3 separate regions of the Homo sapiens genome follow, and all the other regions are reported to be linked to region 2. The links are microRNA targets in miRTarBase. Many come from high-throughput screens and were not tested one by one. Region 2 holds a microRNA gene; each other region holds the end of a gene's coding sequence.

The links. The annotated mature microRNA hsa-miR-6807-5p reads GUGAGCCAGUGGAAUGGAGAGG and lies in region 2 at 4,163-4,184, shown strand. An mRNA with a match to its seed (bases 2 to 7 or 8) in the 3' UTR can be bound and repressed. Matches are read on the target gene's strand: a 7mer-m8 pairs with bases 2 to 8, a 7mer-A1 pairs with bases 2 to 7 and ends in A, and an 8mer does both.
Region 1: the mRNA of TPST2 is a reported target of hsa-miR-6807-5p. Seed matches in the 3' UTR shown: 7mer-m8 at 3,997-4,003, 7mer-m8 at 5,628-5,634, 7mer-A1 at 6,514-6,520 and 7mer-A1 at 6,633-6,639.
Region 3: miRTarBase lists FAM227A as a target of hsa-miR-6807-5p. Seed matches in the 3' UTR shown: 7mer-m8 at 5,580-5,586, 7mer-m8 at 3,960-3,966, 7mer-m8 at 2,637-2,643, 7mer-m8 at 2,528-2,534 and 7mer-m8 at 1,564-1,570.

Annotation. Positions count from the first base shown.
Region 1 is chr22:26,522,388-26,529,497 of GRCh38, reverse strand. TPST2 (tyrosylprotein sulfotransferase 2) reads left to right here. Exons shown (of 7, transcript NM_003595.5): 6 at 1,236-1,284; 7 at 3,231-7,110. The coding sequence ends at 1,277. Among named protein-coding and RNA genes, the nearest start is that of TFIP11-DT, 13 kb to the right of the region's middle.
Region 2 is chr19:58,546,123-58,553,218 of GRCh38, forward strand. It overlaps MIR6807 (microRNA 6807), which reads left to right and starts at 4,163; the gene lies at 4,163-4,254. TRIM28 (tripartite motif containing 28) reads left to right here. Exons shown (of 17, transcript NM_005762.3): 4 at 1,254-1,389; 5 at 1,475-1,591; 6 at 1,670-1,784; 7 at 1,912-2,058; 8 at 2,172-2,286; 9 at 2,364-2,470; 10 at 2,618-2,654; 11 at 2,740-2,788; 12 at 2,866-3,118; 13 at 3,209-3,528; 14 at 3,615-3,738; 15 at 3,827-3,913; 16 at 4,025-4,162; 17 at 4,255-4,593. The coding sequence ends at 4,431. CHMP2A (charged multivesicular body protein 2A) reads right to left here. Exons shown (of 6, transcript NM_014453.4): 3 at 6,137-6,316; 4 at 5,933-6,063; 5 at 5,784-5,845; 6 at 5,444-5,654. The coding sequence ends at 5,527.
Region 3 is chr22:38,579,497-38,586,606 of GRCh38, forward strand. FAM227A (family with sequence similarity 227 member A) reads right to left here. Exons shown (of 17, transcript NM_001013647.2): 17 at 1-6,703. The coding sequence ends at 6,629. Among named protein-coding and RNA genes, the nearest start is that of DMC1, 13 kb to the left of the region's middle. RefSeq lists an enhancer at 3,521-3,570 and a silencer at 6,115-6,315.

The sequences.
Region 1 (7,110 bases), not on the chromosome of region 2:
CTCCCCTCTCCCCTCCCAGGAGGTCAGGGAGGGGAGAAGGCAGGTGGGGCTTAAAGTTCCAACCTTCTGGCTGGGTGTGGTGGCTCATGCCTGTAATCCTAGCACTTTGGGAGGCTGAGGCAGGCAGATCACTTGAGGTCAGCAGTTCAAAACCAGCCGGGCCAACATGGTGAAACCCTGTCTCTACTAAAAATACAAAAAATATTAGCCATTCGTGGTGGCACACGTCTGTAGTCCCAGCTACTTGGAAGGCTGAGGCAGGAGAATTGCTTGAGCTCAGGACGCGGAGGTTGCAGTGAACCAAGATTGCACCACCGCACTCCATCCAGCCTGGGCAACACAGTGAGACTCCGTCTCAAACAACAAAAAAAGTTCCAACCCTCTAATCATGCCTTGGTCTTTCTGAGACCCCTTCCCCTAATCCTGAAGCTATCTAGGGACCCCCAGCCATTAGTCATGTCATTAGCATGCAAAAGATACGTTTTGTTTTTTTTTTGTTTTTGTTTTTGTTTTTTTGATACCTAGTCTCCCTCTGTCACCCAGGCTGGAGTGCAGTGGCATGATCTTGGCTCACTGCAACCTCTGCCTCCCGGGTTCAAGCGATTCTCCTGCCTCAGCCTCCTGAGTAGCTAGGATTACAGGTGCCCGCCACCACACCCGGCTAATTTTTGTATTTTAGTAGAGACAGAGTTTTGCCATGTTGGCCAGGCTGGTCTCAAACTCCTGACCTCAGGTGATCCACCCTCCTCGGCCTCCCAAAGCGCTGGGATTACAGCCATGAGCCATGGCGCCCGGCCAAGATACCCTTATTCCTTCAGAGATTCCAAGAGTTTGGGGAGCTATGTGCCAGGAACTGGGGACAATGAACAAATATTTATTATTATACCACAGCTGAAATGCCATCTTGTAGAGTCCTTTCCTGGCCACCGTTTTTGAAGTAGCACAGATACTGATCACTCATAGCAGCCTGTCATATTGCCCAAGTTTGACATTTTCTTGCATCTGTGCGTGTTCAGTAGGCTTTTTCTTCAACTCGAACGTAAGTTCCGTGATCCTAGGTTTGGGTCTGTCCCGCTCACCACGCTATCCCAGCACCTGGCACATAGTAGATGTACAGTAAATACTACGTGAATAAGCATGTGCATGACTCAGTGATGCTGAGGGGTGACCCTCAATACAGCAAGGCATCCCTCACCTGGCCGTGACCCCTTCTTCTGTGTATTGTCTTTCTCCAGGTGAACCAGAACAGCACCTCCTCCCACTTAGGAAGCTCGTGATTTCCAGGTAAGCCTGTGGACTTCACTGGGGGTTCCCGCTGCTTCTGGGTGGCCCCGGAGCCACTTTTCTGAAAAGCCACTTTTCTGTCCTTCCAGAGCCTCCCTGGGGTAGACATGTCCACTAGGGTGGGCTGACCCAGCCCCATCAGAGGTTTCCATGGTGACAGACTGGGGGTGCTATTTATAGAATCAAGGCTTAGTTTTCTAGCTCTGGATCAAGGACAGGGAGAGGGATTAACGCTGAACCAACCAGAAAAAGGTTTGTCTGACACTGGGGACAGGGCAGGAAGCACCACTATGATGGGGGAGGGGGAGATTCTGGAACCATTTTTGCACAGAATGCTGTCTGCCAGTCTGGCTTCTAAAAACAGCATCAGCGTTGGGCCAGAGCAATTAATGTTCTAATAACAGTCACAAGTCGTTCTGTTCTAAGAATAACCCCCATGGCCGTTGGGCCAGGTACTGGTCCTGTGTTACTCATTTAACCCTCAGCATCCTTGGGAGGCGGATGACATGATCATTCCATTTTACAGAAGAGAAAACCAAAGCACAGAGAAGGAAGGGCTTTGACTTGCCCAAGGCTACACAGCCACCAAGGGACAGAATTCCTCCCAGGTTTGCTTTTAGTGAATGATTTTAAGTGCACATTTATCCATCCATATTCTACTAAGGGGTGGGGAAAGGGATTTTTTTGAACTTGGTAATTCAAAGATTTAAGATCTCCAGGTTTAACTCCCTTCAGCCCCTGTTTTCTTCATCTGGAGAATGGGGATTCATCATTGCCCACCTCTGAGGTTGGCCATGAGATGGCGTGAGCTGGCCCAGGTGGGAGTGCTTGGAAACCGTGAAGTGCTGGGCCCTCGCTGTGGACTTGGGCACTGGAGTTAAGGCTGCATGAGTGAGCTCACTTCCTTCTGTCCCCCAGCCTCTATGATCAGGTTAAAGGAAACCTCAAGAGAGGTTATTTTACATGGAAACACCTTCCAGCTTGGACTCTTATTTTTAGTCTCTGTATCTATTTTTAAACAATCAGCATATGTTTTAGTTTTTCTTTCAATTTACTTTGCTCCAACCTGCAAGGACTCTGTCATTATTAGGGTTCCCATCTTGAGTTGCACTAAGATCCCAGAGTTTTTGTTTTTGAGACAGAGTCTCACCCTGTTCCCCAGGCTGGAGTGCAGTGGCACGATCTCAGCTCACAGCAATCTCCACCTTCTGGGGTTCAAGTGACTCTCGTGCCTCAGCCTTCCAAGTAGCTGGGGTTACAAGTGTGCGCTACCACACCCAGCTAATTTTTGTATTTTTAGTAGAGACGGGGTTTCACCATGTTGGCCAGGCTGGTCTCAAACTCCTGGCCTCAAGTGATCTGCCCACCTCAGCCTCCCAAAGTGCTGGGATTACAGGCATGAGCCACCACACCTACCCAAGATCCCATAGTTCTATTCCAAAGAAAAGAACCCTCTCATGAAAAACAGCTTTCCTCCCTGTTCCTCACTAACTGTTCCCTCGCTGCCTTTCTGCAGATCATTAGTAGAATCCTGGACCTTCTCATTGACAAAAGCAGATTTGTTACTTGTTTTACTGTTTAAATGAGATACCATATAGAGGTGCTTTAGCTGAATCCTGGGTACAGAGTTGGCCTTGAACAAACATGAGTCCTTCTCTTGCCTCCAAGAATTCATCAGTATTTATCACATAATCACTGTCATTTGCTCTGTGTCCATAAGAAAAGTGTATATTTGAGGTCAAGTGGATGCAAGATGAGATGTGGGGAAGAACCCAGGAAACGTTTTTAAATTTAAACTCTCTCTGGCCATCTGGGATGCATTCTTAAAACATTACATGCTTATGCGAATGGATGAAGACAGTATGTTCTGCAATCACATGTATAAATATAAATGATCTATTTCAGAATTGTTACTCTGAGCCTAACACAGTCTTCCCCACTTTCAGATCTCCGCAAATGACTTCATTGCCAAGAAGAGAAGAAAATGCATTTAAGTGGAAATCGGACCTCTAATCCAAGCATATTGCTTGCTATTAATCGCCAAAACAGGACTGCTGATGAGGAATGTATTTGCATATGTTTGCAAAAGCTGAATCATTGAAAACGTACCTTGAAACTCTCTATCTCTGGACACTCCAGGGTAGAGAATGAAGGGTATGGAAGTAGTCCGGCTTTTGAAACTTAGGTATTTTATATTTTTCCCCTCAAGAACTTTTTTTTAAGAGACAGATTTGCCATCCTCCTTAATTTGCAGGACTGCCTTGGTGGCTTTGTTTGCTGGGACAAGGCCCACAACCTGTGCCTCTCCTATTGACCCTTACTTTGAATTCAAAGAATCTATTTAAGAGTTTAATATATGAGGCTTTCTTTGATTCCTCCTCAGTTCTACCTAGTTTCACAGAGGAAAAAAATACTCTTTGAATAAAGTGAACAGAGGCTCATTTGTTTGTGCCTTACTTTACTGAATGAATAGGGTTTTTTTTTTCTTTCCATACTGGATTTTGTCAGGTAGATTTGTGATGAGCAAAAAGCTGGAGAATATAGGTGCATGTAAGGCACAGCTGAATTCCTGTGTCAGGGTCCCCAGGGCCACCCCCAGGATCGATGATTGGCTAGAAGAACTCAGAATTCAGAAGAGCTATTATCCTTATGGTTATGGTTTATTACAGCAAAAGGATAAACATTAAAATCAGCAAAAGAGGCCGGGTGGAGTGGCTCACGCCTGTAATCCCAGCACTTTGGGAGGCCAAGGCAGGCAGATCGCCTGAGGTCAGGAGTTCGAGACCAGCCTGGCCAACATGGTGAAACCCCGTCTCTACTAAAAATACAAAAATTACCTGGGCGTGGTGGTGTGCACCTGTAATCCCAGCTACTCAGGAGGCTTGAACCTGGGAGGCGGAGGTTGCAGTGAGCGGAGATCGTGCCATTATACTCCAGCCTGGGTGACAGAGCAAGACTCCATCTCAAAATAAAATCAACAAAAGAAAAAGGTGCATAGGGCAGAGTCCGGGAGAGACCGGCCTCAAGCTTCCAGTTGTCATCTCCTGGTAGAGTCTTACAGACACACTTAATTTTCCCAGCAATGATATGTGACAACACGTACTAAATATTACCAGCCAGAAAGCTCACCCTAGCCTTGGGGTCTAGGTTTTTATTGCATGTCAGTCACATAGGGCAATCACATGACCGACTTTAGTTACTTAATCACCAGCTGCTCCAGAGGTCAAAATGATACAGCATGGCCCAAGGTCCCCACCATAAATCACATTATTAGCACAAACTATCTGGCCTGGTATGGCCCAAGGCCTGAGGTATACAAAGACACCCCTACTTGGGAGGATATTCCAAGGACTTAGAGGTTATCTCCCAGGAGCCCATTAAGGCCAGTTTTTTCTTTGAGATGTGCTGGGTTTGGACACTTCAAGCCTGCTGAGTTAACCCTTATAGCACAGTCCCCAAATGCTGAGGGACCAACTGGGCCTACAATAAGTTTGTATCTTTAAGGGTTAAGGTGTTTTACCCATACCTCCTTGCCTTATATCTCATGATAATATGAGGCTTTTGGAAGGCAGTGACTTATTGTGGCTTGGGGCATGGGTTTTTGGAGTCAGGCTGACCTACTGGCTGTATGGCTTGAGACTTTGTCTCTTCATCTGTAAAATGGGGAAGTTAAAACTTCATGGTGTGTATGTGTGTATGTGTGTGTTTAGACAGAATCTCGCTCTGTCACTCAGGCTAGAGTACAGTGGCGTGATCATAGCTCACTGCAGCCTCGGTCTCCTAGGGTCAGGTGATCCTCCCATCTTAGCCTCCTGAGTAGCTGGGCATGTGCCACCACACCTGGCTACTTTTTAAATTTTTTTTTTTCTGTAGAGACGAGGTCTTTCTATGCTGTTCAGGCTGAACTTCATGGGTTTATTGGGGATGGCTAATGGATGACATTGGCGGTGGTCCTTGATACCAGATAAGCCCTCAGTGTGAAGCAGCTCTTATTTTTCCTTGTCTTGAGATTGCTCTGGAATGGAAATTAGGCTTTTTTGAAGGTGTGACCCTTTTTGTTCATTTCTTCAGCAGTTACTTTTTATTTTTTAAATGTTTGACACACAGTCTCTGATAAATGATCATTCACCAATCACCGATTACTCTCCTTGCTCTGTTAAGTGTGACACTGTCCCTTTGAGAATCTGGCGACAGCTATGTATCCCATCACCACACACCCCAAAAAAAAAATTTATGTCTGGTTCCAGGAGTTACCTTTTATGAGAAGTCCATCTGTGAAGACCCTGGATGTTCAGAGAACTTCCTGGGAAAACACTGAAAGAAAATAAAGAGGCCGGGCCCGGTGGCTCATGCTTGTAATCCCAGCACTTTGGGAGGCTGAGGTGGGCAGATAAGCTGAGGTCAGGAGTTCCAGACCAGCCTGGCCAACGTGGCGAAACCCCATCTACTAAAAATACAAAAATTAGCTGGGCGTCGTGGCGCATGCCTGTAGTTGCAGCTACTTGGGAGGCTGAGGCAGGAGAATTGCTTGAACCCAGGAGGCAGAGGTTGCAGTGAACCAAGATCATGCTAGTACACTCCAGCCTGGGCAACAGAGTGAGACTCCATCTCAAAAATAAAATAAATAAAACAAAATAAAATAAATACAATTTCTGTTTCTAGCCCCTAAGTGGTAGCACTGGGTCTTGTTCCCTGAAAAAAACTAGGCTCAGAATCCACTCTCATTTCATCTCCCCTGATTTGATCTGAAAAGATTTTGTTTAGAGTACTACATGAATATATTATAAAACATGGGACAATCAGAATTGATAGTAAGAAGGCAAGTGGCTCTATTTGTACTTCCTCTCAATAGCTCCTAAAGGTAATGCTACCATTTTCTGTTTGTACATAGTCTTCCAGACTTTAAATTTTTGAACATATAAATATTATCATCTTAAAGACGTATGGAAAAAACCATTTTGAATAGGTTATTCCAAAATGTAATTTAACAGATTGCTCTGGAGGATTGTTTGTTTGTTTGTTTTGGAGACAGAGTCCCGCTTGGTTGCTCAGGCTGCAGTGCAGTGGCACAAACACAGCTCACTGCAACCTCTAACTCCTGCAAACACAGCTCACTGCAACCTCTAACTCCTGCAAACACAGCTCACTGCAACCTCTAACTCCTGCAAACACAGCTCACTGCAACCTCTAACTCCTGCAAACACAGCTCACTGCAACCTCTAACTCCTGGGCTCAAGCAGTCCTTTCACCTCAGCCTCCTGAGTAGCTGGACCATGACACCTACCTAACTTTTTATTTTTTGTAAAGAGGGGAATCACTATGTTGCCCAGGCTGGTCTCAAACTCCTGGGCTCAAGCAATCCTTCCTCAGCCTCTCAAAGAGTTGGGTTTACAGGCGTGAGCCACCGCACCTGGCTCCTGGAGCATTTCTGATGTGAACATGTGCTGATCTAACACCACTCCTTTTACCAGCTGCCTGTTCTAGAGCAAACCATCTTTTTTGAGCATTCCACTTTGGCTAGGCCCTTAGGCTGTTAGCAGTTTTCATCGCTACTGGCAAAGCTGCAGTGGACGTTCTCCTGCACATATAACCTCTTGATGCCACTGTATGAGTGAGTCTCTGCAAAATGAGAAGTAGAATTGCTGGGGTGAAAGGCATACATACTAACTTTTTTGATTAATTCCACCCATGTACCCTGATTTGGGCAGAATTTTAATCTCACTGTGAAATCAGAGCTTTGTTCTAGAGCCTTTCTTGGGGGTTCCATGGATCAGTGGGTCAGCCGTCACTTGTGCCCTGGCCCATCCTCTGTCCAGCTTGGGCAGC
Region 2 (7,096 bases):
GTGCTGCAGGGAGGTACAAAGGGTTTGAGAAGGCTTATCAGGGAGTTGTCAGACCTGGTGGTGAAGGGCTCAGCATATGCAAACAGGGAAAGGCATGGTGTGAAGGGCTTTCTGGGTTTGTGGTTCCCTGGCACACATCTGGTATAAGATGCTGCTAGGGAAAGTAGACTGTGGGTCCATGGATTATAAGTGATGATGATTTTTGGAAGTGTTTTAGCTTTTGAGTTGGCAGAGACTTACCCAAAGTTTGGTTTGGCATTTCCAGCTTTTCACAGACACAGCTAGCTTTGGTTTGGAAGGAGCTTGAGAGTCTTTTGAGTCTAGCCAAGTTTTGGGGCCAGAATCCTCCCATGAGTGGCCTTTTGGTAGCCATACTGTGATTCTTCCCATCCCAGAGGACAGCATTGGTGGAAGATAGCGGGAAGGTGGTGGCTGTGGGGCCTGAGCAGCCAGGAGGGATACGCAGGGGCTGCAGGGTGTCCTACATTCCAGACGTCCCAGGCAAAGGTCAGGGTGCAGGAATGAGTGGCATTGGGGAAGTCAGTTTCCCCAATGAGCCCTGATGCTACATATTTTGGATTTGGTTGGTATGTGGGACCAGTGTGTTTGATCAGTTTTCTAATGGGGAGACAGGCTTTGGAGGTTATTAATGGGTTGGTCTTTGGGTGGGATTATGCTGAGCACCAAGATTCTGCTCTAGAGGGGGTGTGACCACCATTCTGAGGGTCCTGGTTTGACATTTCATCTCTCCCAGTATGAGAACCTCTACAAGGTTTCCTCTGGGCCCTTGGATTGTAAGAGACCCTGGTGTTCTCTTGTCAGGGAAGAGGGAGGAAGTTAACCATGAAAGGAGAAGAAAAGGAATCCAGGGTGGTGTGTAGGCAGAATTCTGAGTATGTCCACTTGGAGAAGTGTTCAGTAAAGGGAACAGTGTGGGGAAGGGTCAGCGGGGGTGGGGGGTGGGGTGGGGTGGTCCTCTTTTTCTAGACGCTGTTATCCTTACCCTTACATTGTTGTTATCTCTAGAAGCTAGAAGAAAGGGATGTGTTTCTCAGCTATGTTGGGGCAGAGGATTCTGGGAGCAAGGAGTTGGGCTTGCAGGCCTGTGTTCTTCCCTGGCCACACCCTCTACATCTTCCCAATAAATGGCCCAGTGTCACAGAACAGGCCGGAAATGAGGCCCCAACTCATTCTGCTTCCTGAGTTGGGGGTGGTGAAGGGCAAGGTCCAGCCTTATGATTCCCACTCCCCAGGGCCAGCCAAGTCTCGGGATGGTGAACGTACTGTCTATTGCAACGTACACAAGCATGAACCCCTTGTGCTGTTTTGTGAGAGCTGTGATACTCTCACCTGCCGAGACTGCCAGCTCAATGCCCACAAGGACCACCAGTGAGTCCCAAGGCATAGTGGTTGGGTGGGTGGGTGCCACCCCTTCCGTAGCTTAGTGCTCAGGAACACATCTGTCTGCTCTCAGGTACCAGTTCTTAGAGGATGCAGTGAGGAACCAGCGCAAGCTCCTGGCCTCACTGGTGAAGCGCCTTGGGGACAAACATGCAACATTGCAGAAGAGCACCAAGGAGGTTCGCAGCTCGTAAGTGTGGGTTCTGGGGCTGTGGGGGTGGCCCAGGGCAGCAAGACCCTACCTAGCCTGACCTGCTGTGTCCCCTAGAATCCGCCAGGTGTCTGACGTACAGAAGCGTGTGCAAGTGGATGTCAAGATGGCCATCCTGCAGATCATGAAGGAGCTGAATAAGCGGGGCCGTGTGCTGGTCAATGATGCCCAGGTAAGCCTTGTGCCGGTGAGAAGGGTCCCTGAGCCCCCTCTGCTGATTGATGATGCTGTCTGGGGTGAGGAGTGATCCTAGTATTCTTCTGCCTTCTCTGCTTACCTCATACACCTTCTATCTGCAGAAGGTGACTGAGGGGCAGCAGGAGCGCCTGGAGCGGCAGCACTGGACCATGACCAAGATCCAGAAGCACCAGGAGCACATTCTGCGCTTTGCCTCTTGGGCTCTGGAGAGTGACAACAACACAGCCCTTTTGCTTTCTAAGAAGTTGGTGTGTACTGGTGGGCTCCTGGCTGGTGGGTTCCAGGCAGGTGGTTCCCAATACCTCAAATCCCTATTTGTTGTTGGTGTGCTCATTCTTTCCTCCCTTTCACTCCCAACCAGATCTACTTCCAGCTGCACCGGGCCCTCAAGATGATTGTGGATCCCGTGGAGCCACATGGCGAGATGAAGTTTCAGTGGGACCTCAATGCCTGGACCAAGAGTGCCGAGGCCTTTGGTGGGTCCCCAGCTTTACCTCACTCTGTTATTACCCCACGTGCTGCACCTACTTACGTTTCTCTCTTCTTTTTGCAGGCAAGATTGTGGCAGAGCGTCCTGGCACTAACTCAACAGGCCCTGCACCCATGGCCCCTCCAAGAGCCCCAGGGCCCCTGAGCAAGCAGGGCTCTGGCAGCAGCCAGGTGAGCAGGAGAGAGGACCCAGGAAGGGGTGGGCAGGGAATGGGGTCCAGTAGCAGGAGAGAGGACCCAGGCAGGGGGGGTGGGCAGGGAATGGGGTCCAGTAGGGTTCCTGTCCCACTGAGGCAGAGGGTTCTGCTTTGTTCACAGCCCATGGAGGTGCAGGAAGGCTATGGCTTTGGGTCAGGTGAGTGGGTCTGCCTAGTGGGTGGGGAAGGGCCCCAGTGCTGTTTCTACCCCAACCTGCCAGTCTTCTTTCTCCATTTTCTAAGGAGATGATCCCTACTCAAGTGCAGAGCCCCATGTGTCAGGTGTGAAACGGTAAGTATGGCACCTCCCCTGGGGGTGAGGTGGATGGAGGGTGGGGGTGTACTCATGCCAGGTTGCTGCATCTACAGGTCCCGCTCAGGTGAGGGCGAGGTGAGCGGCCTTATGCGCAAGGTGCCACGAGTGAGCCTTGAACGCCTGGACCTGGACCTCACAGCTGACAGCCAGCCACCCGTCTTCAAGGTCTTCCCAGGCAGTACCACTGAGGACTACAACCTTATTGTTATTGAACGTGGCGCTGCCGCTGCAGCTACCGGCCAGCCAGGGACTGCGCCTGCAGGAACCCCTGGTGCCCCACCCCTGGCTGGCATGGCCATTGTCAAGGTAAGCCTGTCCCAAGGAACTATAGCTGTAGGATGAAGCCTGTAGTCCAGGTCTGGACCCTGTTGAACACCCCTCATCACCACCTTGCAGGAGGAGGAGACGGAGGCTGCCATTGGAGCCCCTCCTACTGCCACTGAGGGCCCTGAGACCAAACCTGTGCTTATGGCTCTTGCGGAGGGTCCTGGTGCTGAGGGTCCCCGCCTGGCCTCACCTAGTGGCAGCACCAGCTCAGGGCTGGAGGTGGTGGCTCCTGAGGGTACCTCAGCCCCAGGTGGTGGCCCGGGAACCCTGGATGACAGTGCCACCATTTGCCGTGTCTGCCAGAAGCCAGGCGATCTGGTTATGTGCAACCAGTGTGAGTTTTGTTTCCACCTGGACTGTCACCTGCCGGCCCTGCAGGATGTACCAGGGTGAGTGTGAGGCTGGTGGGGGTCAAGTCTGGGTGTTGGGCTGTCTGGACAGGATCATGTGCAGACCCTTATTTTCTTCACCCTAGGGAGGAGTGGAGCTGCTCACTCTGCCATGTGCTCCCTGACCTGAAGGAGGAGGATGGCAGCCTCAGCCTGGATGGTGCAGACAGCACTGGCGTGGTGGCCAAGCTCTCACCAGCCAACCAGCGGGTGAGGGCTGGGGTTACTTAGGTGGGGTTGCCCAGAGAGGCTTTATAGGTGCTGCCCAGAGCTGTGACATCCCTTACAATGTTTGTAGAAATGTGAGCGTGTACTGCTGGCCCTATTCTGTCACGAACCCTGCCGCCCCCTGCATCAGCTGGCTACCGACTCCACCTTCTCCCTGGTGAGTCCTAGGATGGGAAAGGGGAAGGGGGTGGTGGCTGCTGGGTCTCGCCCTCAACCTGTGCATGTATATGTGTGTCTTTGTGTGTGTATGTGTGATCTCTGCCTGCAGGACCAGCCCGGTGGCACCCTGGATCTGACCCTGATCCGTGCCCGCCTCCAGGAGAAGTTGTCACCTCCCTACAGCTCCCCACAGGAGTTTGCCCAGGATGTGGGCCGCATGTTCAAGCAATTCAACAAGTTAACTGAGGTGAGCCAGTGGAATGGAGAGGCTGTGGGCAGGGGGAGATGTGAAGGAAAGAACTAGGACCCATTCATCCACTGCATTCCTGCTTGGCCCAGGACAAGGCAGACGTGCAGTCCATCATCGGCCTGCAGCGCTTCTTCGAGACGCGCATGAACGAGGCCTTCGGTGACACCAAGTTCTCTGCTGTGCTGGTGGAGCCCCCGCCGATGAGCCTGCCTGGTGCTGGCCTGAGTTCCCAGGAGCTGTCTGGTGGCCCTGGTGATGGCCCCTGAGGCTGGAGCCCCCATGGCCAGCCCAGCCTGGCTCTGTTCTCTGTCCTGTCACCCCATCCCCACTCCCCTGGTGGCCTGACTCCCACTCCCTGGTGGCCCCATCCCCCAGTTCCTCACGATATGGTTTTTACTTCTGTGGATTTAATAAAAACTTCACCAGTTCCTCAGGCGTTGGCTGGTTGGGGGACTGTGGTCCTGGGGCCTGGTTTATTGACTGTATCTACTAGTCAGCCTTATCAAGCACTGGTGGCACAAGGGAGGGGGGTCTTGTCCCCCACCTATCGAAGCCCATGTGTATGGATGCCTAGGGAGTGGGGAAGACTGCCTCCTTGCCCTTTCTGGGTATGGGGAGGGTCACCCAGGGCAAAGGATGTACACACTAGAGGCTTGTTGGGTACCCTGTGGGATACTGGGTAGGTGTGACCTACATCCCTGTGTAGGCAGGGTTAGCCCCAGGTGTAGCACAGCCACTCTACTGAATGCTTCCTAAATTTTGGTGCTGTAGCTGTTTCTCATCTTCAGAAGGTCCCACAGTGAACTGAGACCTTCCAGATGTGGTTTTTTTCCCTGTCTCCCTTTGCTGAGTCCACTTAACATTATCATTCATCTCTGTGTTATGATTTAGTTACTCTACAGTCGAGCCTGTGTGAATCCCAAGGCCACCCCCTTGCCTCTATTGGTTGGTCTGGACTGTCCTTGAGTGTTGTCATTAAACCATCACTGGACCAAACAGTGTTGGACACTACAGCCTGGCAGATGAGGCCTGGACTCTCAAGATCCTACCAGGGTGTTTGGGCAGTCCAGTATCTTGGGAGAGGTGATGGAGAAGGGCCCACAGCTCACCTGAAGCTCCCAGCTCCTGAAAATCCCAGGTGGACTTTGCTTGTTCACCCCTGCCCCAAACCCCCACCCTTAGCTTAGTACCAAGTGCCTCTTGCCTTAGTGATGCCCATCCTCCCAGGGACCCCAGTCTGGTCCCACATCAGGCCAAAAGTCACATGGGCCTGGAGACTAGTGTCAAATCTCTTTTATTACAGAGGGGTTGTGGTAAAAGATCCTGGGCATCCACTGGTTATCTCGGAGTGGCAGGGGCACTCAGTCCCTCCGCAGGTTCTTAAGCCGTTCCTCCAGGTCTGCATCAGCATCAGCTAGGGCTGAGGCTGCGGCCTCTGCTTTTTTCCCACCAGCAGCCACACTAAGCGAGCCCCCAGTTGAGGGGAGGTCTGCAGAGAAAGTGGGGGTTTGAGCAGGTGGGGTCAGGCAGCGGAGGGGAGTAATGCAGGGAAAGGGAGGGCTTGGAGCTGTGGCTGGGCCTTGGGTGGGAAATGGGGTCCAGGATTTGGAGCACTCACTCGACAGCTCATCTGTTAGGCTAAGTCCCAGCTCATCCAGAACCTGGGACACCACAGCATCACTAGGGAAGAGAGAGAACTCAGTGAGGGCTATGCACTCCGTGAGGGCCAGGCAAACATCTCCACCCTCCCATCCAGTTTCCCCATACCTCTCCTCTTCATCTTCCTCATCACCCATGGCATCATCAATGGCATCATTCATCATCTCCTCCTTCATATCCATGATCTCTGCCTGCCGCTCAAACTCCATCATGATCTTCTGGATCTGGGGCAACTTCAGCTGGAAGTGACAGGAGTGTGAGTGTGATCCCCATGGGTCGTGGGAGTGGGAAGGGGGATTGGGAAAAGCGCACCTGTCTGTTCATGGTGCCCATGGCCTTGGTGACACCCTTCATGGCTTGTGCCATCGAGTTGTTGGACTTGAGTGTCTGGATCTTGAGGGACACAGCCTGGATGTTGGCCCGCATCAATACAAACTTGCGCACATAGCGCCGGGTGCGCACCAAGTCTTTTGCCATGATGCGAACAGCATCCTGCAGAGTAGACAAGGGTATCAAGGACACAGGAATGAGATTATCCTACACTTCTTGACACCCCATTAGTTGGTTGTCCCTCCCCACCAGCCCAATTTGCAATTCCACTTGAAGTTTCCAGAGACTCTGGCTAACCCAATGGTCACTGGTCCCTCCCTCCTTCTGACCTAACCCTCCTCTGCCTCTTGGGCCACCAACTCCCTGGGCTCCTTTGTAAGGTCCTCCTCACTTCTCTTGATCTGTAAATGGTAAAAGAAAGGCCCCAGGCTCACTCCTGAGGGTTCCTTTTCCCTCCATGTTTTCAGTCATTCTTTTGACTTACAACAGCCATTCCTCAATTTTTATTCCCAGCCTAGACAAAGAATCTGTCTCTTCCTTCACCTGATACAAACCCATACCTCGAACTATCCAGAATCACATACAGACCTATCTGAGGCTCAGCTTTTGATTTCCTCTCCAAACATCTTTCTTGCCCATCCCAAGAAATGGTATCTTCTCTGCCTACCTGTTCAGGCCAAAACCCTCTCACCCATCAAAGGCTGTGTTCCTTCTTCATGCTCTCCCTACTGGTTCCGGCTGTCTCTTACCAGCCTCTTGGCCATAGCTTATAGCTTACCCTTACCTTTTTTTTTTTTTTGAGTTGGAGTCTTGCTTTGTTGCCTAGGCTGGAGTGCAGTGGCACAATCTTGGCTCACTGCAAACTGTGCCTCCCGGCCTCAAGCGATTCTTCTGCCTCAGCCTCTCGAATAGCTGGGATAACAAGTATGCACCACCATGCCC
Region 3 (7,110 bases), not on the chromosome of region 2:
GACCACAATGAAAGTGTGTAAAATATGCTTAGAAGTGTCCATGGTAGATGCCTTTAATTTTAAAAATTATGGCTAAAATCAAATATGCACAAAAGTAAAACAGTATAATATTCCCATCACCCATCTTCAACAATTTTCAACACATGGTCAATCTTGTTTCACCTATACCTCCATCCACTTTCTCTCTCCCATATTATTTGAGTACAAATTCCATAAATCTTGTAATTCCATCTGTGAATATTTCAGTATATATCTCTAAAATGTGATAACTCTTTAAAAAATATAACCATAATGCTATTATCACGCCTAGAATAATTTTATATATAAAATATTTAAGATTCAGATATCCATTTGTCTCATAAATGCCACATTTTGTTTCAATGGGATCCAAATAATGTCCACATGTTGTAATTGATTGATGTCTTTTTTTTTTCTTTTTAGAGATGTGGTCTCATTCTGTCACCTAGGCTGGAGTGTGCAGTGGCATGATCATAGCTCACTGCACCCTCCAACTCCCAGGCTTAAGCAATTCTCCCACGTCAGCCTCCCAAGTAGCTAGGACTACAGGCGTATGCCACCTTGCTCTGCTAATTTTTACTTTTTTTGTAGAGACAAGGTCTCACTATGTTACCCGGTTTGGTCTCACCTCCTGGGCTCTAGGGGTTCTTCCACCTTGGCCTCCTAAAGTGCTGGGATTACAGGCATGGGCCACCATGCTCGGCAACCGATGTCCTCTTTTAAGTCTCTTTTAATCTATATATTCCCCCTCTCTTTTTCCCTTGAAACTTATTTGTTGAAAAAAATGAAGTCATTTGCCCTGGAGTTTTCCATGGCCTGGATTTTGCTGATTGCATCCCCTAGGTGTCATTTACCATTTGCCATGATGTCCCCATCCTCTGTATTTCCTGTTATGGTGGTTGGATCTAGAGTTCAGATCACATTCAAGTTTACTTATTTGTAAGACTATTTGATAGGTGGTCTTATGGTCTAGTATCAAAAGGCATTTAATAGCTGTTTGTCTTTTGTGATGTAAGCAGCCATGGATAATCAACCTAGATCCATTAATTCATTAGGGGTTTCAAAATGGTGATATTTTAAGTCTATCATTATTTCTGAATTTATTAGGTGGATTGTTTCTAAAGACAAGTTTCTGTTCCACTACTATTTGGTTACCTGGTAATACAGTTCATATGGGAATGGCATGATAAATGCTTATTCATTTACTTACCAATTTTCAAAATAATGAGGAAGTTTCCTAGTATCCAATTAGTTTCCTCCTTTCCCCTTTCCTTTTTTATCTTTGAGACAGTCTCACTCCATCACCTAGGCTGGAGTGCAGTGGTGCGATCTCAGCTCACTGTAACCTCCGCCTCCCAAGTTCAAGTGATTCTTGTGTCTCGGCCTCCCGAATAGCTAGGATTCCAGGCATGCACCACCACGCCTGGCTGATTTTTGTATTTTTAGTAGAGACGGGATTTTGCCTTGTTGGCCAGGCTGGTCTCAAACTCCTGACCTCAGGTGATCTGCCCACCTCGGCCTCCCAAAGTGCTGGGATTACAGGCGTGAGCCACCGCGTCCAGACACCAATCCGTTTTTTAAAAGTCACAATATGAACTTACAGGTGAGAACACGTTTGACGTGCTTCAAATATGGCAATTATTATTAATGCCCAAATGGTCCTCTCTTTTAGCTAATGGGATTGTCTCTAAGTTTGCTCCCAAGTCTTTCTGACAGGATCCTTGTCTTTGATAGCTTCCTTGGTGTTAAGTGTGATAAGATGTTTCAGGTCTCATGATTTTCCTGCCCTAGACCTGGAACTGATCATTTCTTCAAGGATCCCTAGATCCTTTTAGGGCAAATAGTATTTCAAGACCACAGTCTGGGTCACTGCTGCCGGGTCAGTCTTTATTTCTAGGTCATTTCAGTGGACAGAGTTTTAGGAAATATATACACATATTTTTGAGACAGAGTCTCACTGTGTTGTCCAGGCTGGAGTGCAGTGGCATGATCTTGGCTCACTGTAACCTCCGCTTCCTGGGTTCAAGCAATTCTCCTGCCTCAGCCTTGCGAGTACCCGGGACTACAGGCAGCTGCCACCACACCCGGCTAATTTTGCATTTTGAGTAGAGACAGGATTTCGCCATGTTGGTCAGGCTGGTCTCAAACTACTGGTCTCAGGCAATCCACCCGCCTCGGCCTCCCAAAGTGCTGAGATTACAGGCGTTAGCCACCGCACCTGGCTCAGGTTTTTTTTTTTTTTTTTCCCAGACACAGTCTTGCTCTATCATCCAGGCTGAGTCTAGTAGCACAATCACAGCTCATGGCAGCCTTAAGCTCCCAGGCTCAAGCGATCCTCCCACCTCAGCCTCCCTAGTAGCTAGGACTATAGGTATGCACTACCACATCGGACTAATTTTTTATGTTTTTGTAGAGGCAAGGTCTCACTATGTTGTCCTGTTTGGTCTCAAACTCCTGGCCTCAAGCAATCCTCTTGCCTTGGCCTTCCAAAGTGCTGGGATTACAGGTGTGAGCCACCATGCCTGGCCTGTTCGTTTTTTAACAAAGCTTTATCGAAGTATAATTGACATATGAGAAACTGCACACATTTAAAGTGTATTTAGGTGTGTATACACCCATGAGCCATTCACCACAATCAAGATAGTAGACATATCTGTCACCCCCAAAAGTTTATTTGGGCCTCTTTGTAACCCCTTCCAGCTTCCCTCCTATCCCCTCTCCAGCTATCCCTCCTGTTCTTCAGGAAACTGTATGTTCTAAAACATACATTTCATCATCAATTCATAAGCAATTCAAAATCAGGACTATAGGATTTTAACTTCATCTCTTCTAGTTTAACATCTGAATTTATCTTCTTCCATGCTGAGAGTATGGGTTTTCAGCAACACTGGGAATGACAGAATTAGAATATCATACAATTACTCATTTGCTTTATCCCACATTACAGCAAATGCTTTTTAAATGTTAGTTCCCTTTGATGCTCTACCCCGCTTCCCTTATAAAGGGCAAATAATTCTTCCCCATAATTTTCCCTTCTAATGTTTACAAAGGGCAGAGACAGGTTTCTTCATATTTAACATCCTGAGAGGCTACAACTCTGAGTCCTCAGTCATTTCTGGAAAGGGTCCATGCAGGGATGATCTTGGACTGTGCAACAAATGGTCCTGACAGACAGAAATGCAGTTTGTCCTGGGCTTAGAAAATAAGGAGACCTTCTTGCTGTATGGGGGCTAATAGTAGCGGTGGATAGGTAGACAGGCAATTCCAATCTACTATGGTAACTGCTGCCATAATGGGATGGCACAGAATGCTGTTGGAGCATAATGCAGTGGAGCACTTGTGCCTACCTTGCTCCTGGTATATTAGGGAAGGCTCCCAAGATGAGGGACGTCTAAGCGGGGTCCTGGAGGAAGAGCAGGAATTAGTGATGTTGGCAGTTAACAAAGAGGAGGGAGGAGAAGGCATTTTCAGGTCCAGAAGCAGCAACAGACAAAAGATCCAGAAATAGGAAAGTGTGGTTCCTAGAGAAACTGCAAATGAAGAGTTGACAGTGGCTGGGGTAGTAAAGGGAAGGTGAGAGAGTGTTCTGCTTATCTGCCCCACATGGTGCCTTGTACTCGGCAGGTGCTCACACGTTCTGGTTTCAGAAGACTATACTTTTTTTTTTTTTTTTTTGAGATGGAGTTTCACTCTTGTTACCCAGGCTGGAGTGCAATGGTGCAATCTCAGCTCACTGCATCCTCCACCTCCCGGGTTCAAGTGATTCTCCTGCCTCAGCCTCCTGAGTAGCTGAGGTTACAGGCACCTGCCATTGTGCCCGGCTAATTTTTTTGTATTTTTAGTAGAGATGGAGTTTCGCCACGTTGGCCAGGCTGGTCTCAAACTCCTGACCTCAGGCGATCCACCTGCCTTGGCCTCCCAAAGTGCTGGGATTACAGGCATGAGCCACTGCACCCGGCCAAGAAGAGTACACTTTATAACAGCAATAACAACAATAACAGCTTGTGGCAATTACAAAGTGAAAAGTACTGTGCCAAGAACTTTGCACAAATTATCTCATCTAATCCTCACAACAACCCTCCTAGGCAGGCATTCCCTTTCTGCAGTCAAGAAAGCACGTTCAGAAAGGTCAAGATGCACAGCTACTATGCTGAGTCACACATCCATATGGTGAAGCAGGGCAGGGATTCAAAGGCCCAAATTTTCTCATGCCAAAGCCTAAGCTCCTTCTCTCTTACCTTTCCTTCATCCCCTTTTACATGAGTAATAGCCTCCAAGGGGGTCACCTAGAGTTCTACTCAGGATTCAAGTAAAGATGTGTGTCTGAGGGATGAGCTACATTTCCCAAGATCTGCTTATCTGCTGCTTGGTTTGGGCAAACAGCCATCTGCACCATTTCTTTCCTCTTGGCTGTGACAGGTGAACTGTTCTAGCACAGACCAGGTCACTGCCTTGTGCCTTGAAGCTCAAATGATAAAACCTATGCCCTTCAGCCCAGCTGCTGGTCCTTTGGCAAACCAACCCCTGTGCCTGTGCCCCTCAGTGAAATATCTTCTGTCCCAAAGGGCTGCTGGCACACTGGCTTCATCTGCCTTGGTTTTTCTCAGATTCCACGCAGCTTTCTATCGGAGCATTAATGCATTTATTGGTTTACACATCCTTCTCTTTTTTCCAGATTGTGAGCCCCATAAGGTCAGGGACTGTGTCTTTATTTATCTCTGTATTCACAGGGCCTAGTGCAGGGATGGTACAGAATAGACATCTAGCAAATACCTAATCATCCCCCCCAAGTCCGTTTCTTCCTAGGAGAAAATGGAGGTAACAATATCCATCTTGGGGGACACCAGGAAGGTTAACTGAGATAATGTCTAAACCAGACTTAGCAGAGCACTCAGCACATACTAAGTACTCAATAAATGACATCACCTATGATTACTATTATTATGTTATACAATATTAGATACTCCAGGCCAGGTGTGGTGGCTCACACTTAGAATCCCAGTGCTTTGGAAGGACAAGGCAGGAGGATTACTTGAAGCCAGGAGTTCGAGACCAGCCTGGGCAACACAGTGAGATCCCATCTCTACAAAAAAATTTCTTTAAAAATTAGCCAGACATGGTGGCATACCTGTAGTCCTAGCTACTTGGGAGGCTGAGGTGGGAGGATTGCTTCAGCCCAGGAATTTGAGGTTGCAGTGAGCTATGACTGCGCCACTGCATTCCAGCCTGGACAACAGACTGAGAGTCTGCCTCTAAAAAATTTAATTTAGTTAAAATTAATTAAAAAAAATTTTTTTTTGAGACAGAGTTTCGCTCTTGTTGCCCAGGCTGGAGTGCAATAGCATGGTCTTGGCTCACTGCAACCTCCGCCACCTGGGTTCCAACGATTCTTCTGCCTCAGCCTCCCGAGTAGCTGGGATTACAGGTGCCCGCCACAACATCCAGCTAATTTTTGTATTTTTAGTAGAGATGGGGTTTCACCATGTTGGCCAGGATGGTCTCGAACTCCTGACCTCGTGATCTGCCCACTTCAGCCTCCCAAAGTGCTGGGATTACAGGTGTGAGCCACCACGCCTGGCCTAATTTAAAATTTTTTAATTAAAAAAATTAATTTACATTTAAATCCTGACTTTTGCTATGGTAGGAATGAACTTTACTATTCCTTGTCTCATGAACTGGGAGTGACTAAATGTGTCCCTAGTTGCAGTATTATTTTTTGTTTTCTTATTTCTATTTTAGATTAAATCAGACAACATGTGCATGCTTTACCTATAAAGTTTCTCTCAATTCTTGGACAAAGATTCACTCAAATGAGCTGGAAGGTGAGAGGTTAAGAAGGCAGAAGCCTGGGAGTCACACAGAAACACATTACAGATGTCATGTCCCTGGGCTGAGTTTAGAAAAGACAAGATGTTTGCCAGGCAGAAAGAGGGCATATTGGAAATAGGCTGGCAATCCCAGTGGTTAGAGGAGCAGGAGGCAAAGGTTCAGAGGCAGCATAATAGAAGCGCCTATCAAATTATCAAATTAATAGTTCCACAAAGCTTGTTACAAAAAATTGCACTCCTCTAGGCCCATTTTCCTTTTCCCTCACAACACTTTTCTCTTTTTCCTCTGTCCAATACTTACAGCATTTAATGTGTTGATACATCTGTCTTCCCTCTACCAGATGGTGACTCCCTTGAGAACAGGGACTGTGTCTTATCTACTGTTAATTACCCAGTGTCTACAGCAGAGAACTTCGGAAACCTTTCTAAACCTGGGCTTGCTGCTGCGTAAAATGCAGTGGATAATCCCTACTTCATACGGCTGGTATGAAAGTTTTACCTTTGTATGAGGTCATATTTGTAACATACTTACCAGCATGCACGTAATAAAATACTGAAAGAGTAAATCTATGAATAAATGTAGTGACCCAAGCACCAACTCTCTACTCCTGCTTTTCACTCAGCCTAGGAAAAACTACAACGGAATCCTTCCCCTATGGAGAAATCATGATTCCTATTTCTGTCTTTGGCCACAATTTTCTTATTTTCTTGTTCCACTCCACCTCGTAGCAGAAATATCACGGATTCTGTAGGCGCTTCCTGGTTCTAGGTTGTGGAGCTCCTCAGGGCTTGGAAGTGAGTGGAAAGAAATGTTCAACTTCTGTTTCTCTTCTCTTTCCCTCTCCTCCTTTCCCCTCCTGTGGGGGAAACAAACGAACAAAAACAAAAATTAATTTAAAAAATGTAATTTCTTCAAAGACTTTGCACGTGAGCAGTGGCGTGGCCAGTGGTGATCCTTGTGTGCATGGAATATTGAGGGCGTGCTCCTGCCTCCAGAGAAAGTGGTCGAGCAGGACAGCTGGCATCCACGGCTTCCACATCCCCAGTGCCTCCATCCTTCATCTTTCACCAGTACTGACAGGAACACTGCTGTGTCGGATCTGAACTGGGCCCCAAAAACCTCTAGGTAGCAGGCAGGTACTACTCCATTGGAGGTGACATCCCTCTGGTGACGCTGAAAACCTGGATTGTGTTTTCTAACTCTGTCTATCTGCTTCACACCTCCAGATGTGAATCTTCAGAATATTATTTGCTGGGCTATGGG